Linked DNA regions of Homo sapiens: region 1 is linked to region 2. The links come from fine-mapping of genetic effects on gene expression. A gene starts in region 2. The other region holds a variant in brackets. All regions are shown on one strand. Distances are between the middles of the regions. Region 1 overlaps ACACB (acetyl-CoA carboxylase beta). Region 2 holds the start of ACACB (acetyl-CoA carboxylase beta).

What was found.
Region 1: its variant is fine-mapped to the expression of ACACB in whole blood (TOPMed, PIP 0.99).

What each region holds. Positions count from the first base shown.
Region 1 is chr12:109,158,131-109,161,044 of GRCh38, forward strand. The region is part of intron 2 of ACACB (acetyl-CoA carboxylase beta); the gene reads left to right. Among named protein-coding and RNA genes, the nearest start is that of ACACB, 43 kb to the left of the region's middle. The variant A/G (reference allele first, on the strand shown) is at 1,222.
Region 2 is chr12:109,115,009-109,117,922 of GRCh38, forward strand. It overlaps ACACB (acetyl-CoA carboxylase beta), which reads left to right and starts at 1,579. Exons shown (of 53, transcript NM_001093.4): 1 at 1,579-1,696.

The DNA.
Region 1 (2,914 bases), 43 kb after region 2:
CTCGTGCCTAGCTTGGGGTCAGCAGACTGCTATTATAAACGGCCAGACAGTAAATATTTTTGGCTTTGTGGCCATGTGGTCTCTGTTGTAACTACTCAACTCTGCTGTTTCCTGCACCAGAAGCCATAGTTATGTAATTGAACAGGCCTGGCTGTGTTTCAATCAGACATTATTTATAGATGGGGAAATTCAAAGTTCATATAATTTTTATGTGTCACAAAACAGGATTCTTTTGATTTTTTTTTTTTTTTCGATGACTTAAAAATGTTGGCTGGGCATGGTGGCTTATGTCTATAGTCCCAGCACTTTAGAAGACCAAGACAGGAGGGTTGCTTGAGGAGTTTGAGACCAGTCTGGGCAACATGATGAAACCCCGTCTCTACAAAAATAAACCAATTAGTTGGGCATGGTGGTGCACACCTGCAGTCCCAGCTACTCAGGAGGCTGAGGTGGGAGGATCACTTGAGCCCAGGAGTTTGAGGCTGCAGTGAACTATTTTTGCACCACTGCACTGTAGTCCTGGCAACAGAGGGAGACCCTGTCTCTATAAAAAACAAATAAGGCTGGGTGCGGTGGCTCACACTTGTGGTCCCAGCACTTTGGGAGGCCAAGGTGGGCAGATCGCCCTGAGGTCAGGAGTTCAAGACCAGCCTGGCCAACATGGTAAAACCCTGTCTCTAATAAAAATACAAAAATTAGCAGAGCGTGGTAGCACACATCTGTAGTCCCAGCTACTCGGGAGGCTGAGGCAGGAGAATCACTTGAACCTGAGAGGTGGAGGTAGCAGTGAGCTGAGATCACACCGCTGCACTCCAGCCTGGGCGACAGAGCAAGACTCCCTTTCGAAACAAACGAAACAAAACAAAAAACAATCTAAAAAGTTAAAACCGCTCTTAGCCTGTGGGAGATACAAAAACAGGTGGCCGAGTGGATTTGACCCATGGGTCCTAGTTTGCCCACTCACCCCTGGCCTAGCCAAGGTAGTCATCCCAGGGGGTACTGATGGGGCAGGTGGCTTGAGAAATTTCCAAGGGTCCATTTCTGGAGAGCGTGGTTTTGTGCTGTTTGAACGATATCAACCTTTACTGGGCTACACAGTGTTCTTTCTTGCTTTCTTGTTTGGAAGTAGTTGTAATTACAGAATTGCCTGGCTCAGAATCAGCTCTTAGCAGTGCGGGTAGCCGTTACCATCTCTATTTTATAGAAGAAAAGAGAGGGAAG[A/G]AATTGAAGGTCTGATTAATGCCGGGGCCCTAGCCTAATGGCCCAGCCTGGGCTCCTGTAATGCTATCCTGCAGACGTACATGGTAGCTAAAGTGTTGCAAGCTGTTTACTTTGGCTAGGTCCAGGGATAAACTGTTAATTCCATCATGTGAGGAAACTGAGGCAGGGAGTATTGAAGTAACTTTCCCAGGATTACACAGGTTATAAGCGGTAGATTCTGGCTTCAAAGCCTAGGAGGATGGCCGCAGTCTACCAGAGTTTCTAAACTGCGGCTCTGTTGACACTTGGGGCTGTCCAGTTCTTTGTGGGGCTGTCCTGTGCATTGCAGGGTGTTGAGCAGCATCCCTGGTCTCCACCCACTAGATGCCAGTAGCGCATCCCCCAAGTTGTGACAATCAAAGATGTCTCCAGGTATTGCTCCCCGGGGAGCAAAATTTCCCCCAGTTAAGCACTCAGGGCTGGGCGCGGTGGCTCACCCCTGTAATCCCAGCACTTTGGGAGGCCAAGGTGGGCAGATCACCTGAGGTCAGGAGTTCGAGACCAGCCTGGCCAACATAGTGAAACCCCATTTCTACTAAAAATACAAAAATTAGCCAGGCATGGTGGCAGGCACCTATAGTCCCAGCTACTCGGGAGGCTGAGACAGGAGAATCGCTTGAATCTGGGAGGCAGAGGTTGCAGTGAGCCGAGATGGTGCCACTTCACTCCAGCCTGGGTGACAGAGCTAGACTCTGTCTCAAAAAAAAAAAAAAAACCAACCAACCAAACAAAAAACCTCAGCATTATACATGTTTGTCTCTTATTTGAGAGGAATATAAGAGGCCATATGTGTAATGCATGTTTTAAAAGTCCAGTTAATAGAGGGGCTTCCATTTATCTCAGATTGTCTTTCTGCCTAGAAGTTAGATTCTGAGGTCAGCTAGAGTTGGATTTGAAACGGGGCTCTGCCACTTGCCAGCTGTGAAACTGGAGGTAAATGGTCCTCTCTGAACCTCGGTTTCCTCATCGTGAACCTGGAGATGACAGACTCCTCCATACAGGGCTGTGGAGATTCACTGAGAGGCCCCCTGTGCCCAGTCCATAGTGGGCAGCCGAGAATGTTTATTTCCTCCATTCCTGATACTATTCTGCCTGGTCTTGTGCTCCGGCAGCTGACTGCATTTGGTGTTTGGCTGACACCTCTGCTGTTGATTGTACCTGAAGTCATTTCCAAAGTCACCTTGAAACATTTCAGCTCTCACCCTTGCCGTGCTGTATAAGGACAGGGCTTCTCACTGGACAATGGCACTTAGGATGATCCTCCTTCAGTGGAAGCAAATGCTGGCCGAAGGTCAGCTCTCTAGAGCCAATGTTGGTTGGCTTCCAGCTTTATCAAAAAGAATTAAAATAGCCACTTGCCTGGAGATTGGGCCTGAAACAAGGCCAGTCCGGCAGCTTTGTGTGTTCGCTTGCCTAGCCTGCGGTAATGGGCTTGTGGCCTGCCTGATGGAGGGGCTCTGTCACCAGTTTCGAAATCAACATGGTGGCCAAGAATGGTTTTTTTGCCCCCTAGGCCACAAATGAAGTTTTTCTTTGTTGTGCTTTAGGTCAAATTGCTAGAGTTTTAATGTTTGTGTGTGTAGAAATGGGATGTCTCAGACTTTCTGAAGCTGAACCATCAAGCCAGCCAGTCAGGGAAGGTCGTGGACAGAAT
Region 2 (2,914 bases):
CTGGAAAATACCTGTGTCTTAAAGAGATAGTGTCTAGGGAGAACTGAATCACTGCAGAGTTCTTCACCTGTATGTGTGGGTATGTCTAGTCTTTTTGCAAGTAATGAATTTCATTAGAAAGATATTAAGTGCTTGTCATGAGCAAGCCCCTGTGCCAGAAACTCAATATAAATCATTTCATTTTCTCACCCATATGGTGAAGTAGTTGATGAGGACACTGAAGCTCAGCCATTTGCTCAAAGTCATGGCTAATGGAGGGAGGATTCAAACCCACATCAGCTTGATTTCAAAGCCTAATAGTCCTGCCACTGTCAACACCCTGCCTAGATCATGATTATTTGGAATCACTGGGAAAGAATTTTTTTTTCATGAAGTTAGAAGCCTAAGAATTTTTTTCAATGGAATTTTATAAAAATGTCCTTGAATCACAGATGGCTCTCCCTGGAAACATAGGTTTGTTTGAGAGTCACCTCTTTTATTGTCTTAATAAATAGACTAAGAGCCATCACAAGGGCTACTGTGGCTAGAGAACATATGACTCGGGCCGGGCATTGTGCAGGCATTTGACCTGCATTCCTTCACCCCGGTTCCTGTAACATGTACCTGGTGCTGTGGGGTTACAGCTGATAATGCTGAGGTTTCCAGAGCACATGCTTCCAAGTCCAGTGGAGAAAATCCCAAGAAGTCCAATATTCAATGACTGTTCCTTATTGCAAAATAAGCCCAGAAACAAAGTAGCTGTGAACAGGCTGCACCAGCCCCAGCAGCAATTTCCATTTAAACCATTTTGCACAGATCCCGTGCTCAGCGCTCTCGCCAGTTTCTCCACTTGCTGTTTAGTAAGGCCATCATTGTTGGCAGGAAGTGGGTTCCACCTTCCCTGTTGCCTGAGCACAATGTGCTCCTATGTGGTCTCCACTTTCCTGCTGCCTAGTTGGCTGGGCTTCTCCAGCTGGGCCTTGGAGGCGACCTTTGTCCCACATGCCAGCCCTCCCCACGTTGCAGAACACTATGTAACTGCAGCGTGTGCTGAATTTCCTCTTCTGTGCTCAACCCTAGCAAGAGCCAGTCAACCCTGAATGAGAATGTGGCAATGGAGCTGTTTTTTTCTTTTATCCCCAAGTCACAAGAAATTGGAAACATTCCATTAAGTGGCGTGATTTGAGAGGGTTTCGCCAAATCTTTTCAGGGGAGAGAAGCCAGGTGACCTGATAGCGATCACCTTCCCATTCACGGTTTTCAATGGGGGCTTGTTTCTCAAATGACCAACACCTGTAGGCAGTTAATTTTCAGCATGTCACAGGAGGGCCCAGATGACTTTCTGCCTACTGCTTACGACAACATGGACTTTAGATGCCTCATGGCTTCAACAGCTAAGAATTATGAAATAAAGCGAGTTATGGGATTAAAAGGCAGATAGCAGAACTCTCCCAGGAGTAGCCAGGGCTGCACAAGTGGTTTGACGTGGGATCTTTCTCATCTTTGCCCCGGGTTGTTGCTGCTTTGAAGGTTAAGTGCTCCAGGGATATTTTTAAACAGCAGGGGCTGATTAATCTAAAAGTGACATTTGCAGTCCCCAGAGTAAGCAGCTAGCAGGCTTAGATTCAGGCCCTCAGCAAACAAGGAACCTGGAAAATGTAACCCTGAATGCACGGTGGGGAGGACATGGCAAGAGAAAAGCGGCAGGAATAAAGTGGTAAGTCAGCTCGCCCCTCCCCGGGGTCCGGACCATTCTGCCAACGTCCAGGTAAATTCGAACCCAATGTATAGTGAGAGCAGACCCTGTCTGAAGGCATGCACTTGGGGTCCCCGGGGAAAAACGACTCCCGTCATGTTTGAAGGAAGCTAATCAGAAGAGCTCGAAATGTAACGCAGATGAAAGAGAAGGGCCTTTCTTTGCTTCTATAAATGGTGGTGTGGATCCCTGGACATGCTCCCATATAAGTTCCACAACGTTTTATAAACAATTCTGTTTTTTGCCTCCAAAGCTACTGTCTTAAGGAATAGTATTCTGTTTCTGTTTCCTCAAATGGTTGTTCTTTTTTTTTTTTTTTTTTTTTTTAAAGCAGACTAAGGCTGGGCACGGTGGCTCATGCCACCCAGCACCTTGGGAGGCAGAGGCAGGTGGATCACTTGAGGTCAGGAGTTCGAGACCAGCCTGGCCAACATGGCGAAACCCCATCTGTACTAAACACATAAAAATTAGCCAGATGTGGTGATGGGCACCTGTAATCCCAGCTACTTGGGAGGCTGAGGCAGGAGAATCGCTTGAACCCAGGAGGTGGGGGTTGCAGTGAGCTAAAATTGCGCCACTGCATTCCAGCCTGACTGACAGAGCAAGACTCTGTCTCAAAAAAAAAAAAAAAGAAAAGAAAAAGAAAAAAAGGAGACTAAGAGTAAAGCGTTTGTAGTGGTCCTATATCCTATATTTCTAGGAAGACATGACTTTCTTTCAATGTTGAAAAAATGCATTCCAAAATAATATGCAAGTTAAAAAGTCACTCAGCACCGTGCAAAAGTCTCCTTGCTGTTATTCCTGTCTAACCCTCCTCCTCCAGGTAGCCACTGTGCACATTTTGGTATAAACCCCCCAGACCTTTTATTCTGTACACTCACACTGTACACAACTCTCTCCCTCATGTCTATTGTGATTACTTTTATTTTTTAATATCAATGGGCATCCATATAGGTTGGGTGACCAACCATCCCACTTTGCCCAGGACCGGGGAATTCCCGGGACATGGGACTTGCAATTTAAAAACTGAAAGGTGAAGATATTATTATTATCATTATTATTTGAGATGGAGTGCTCACTGCAAGCTCCGCCTCCTGGGTTCACGCCATTCTCCTGCCTCAGCCTCCCAAGTAGCTGGGACTACAGGCACCCACTACCACGCCCGGCTAATTTTTTTTG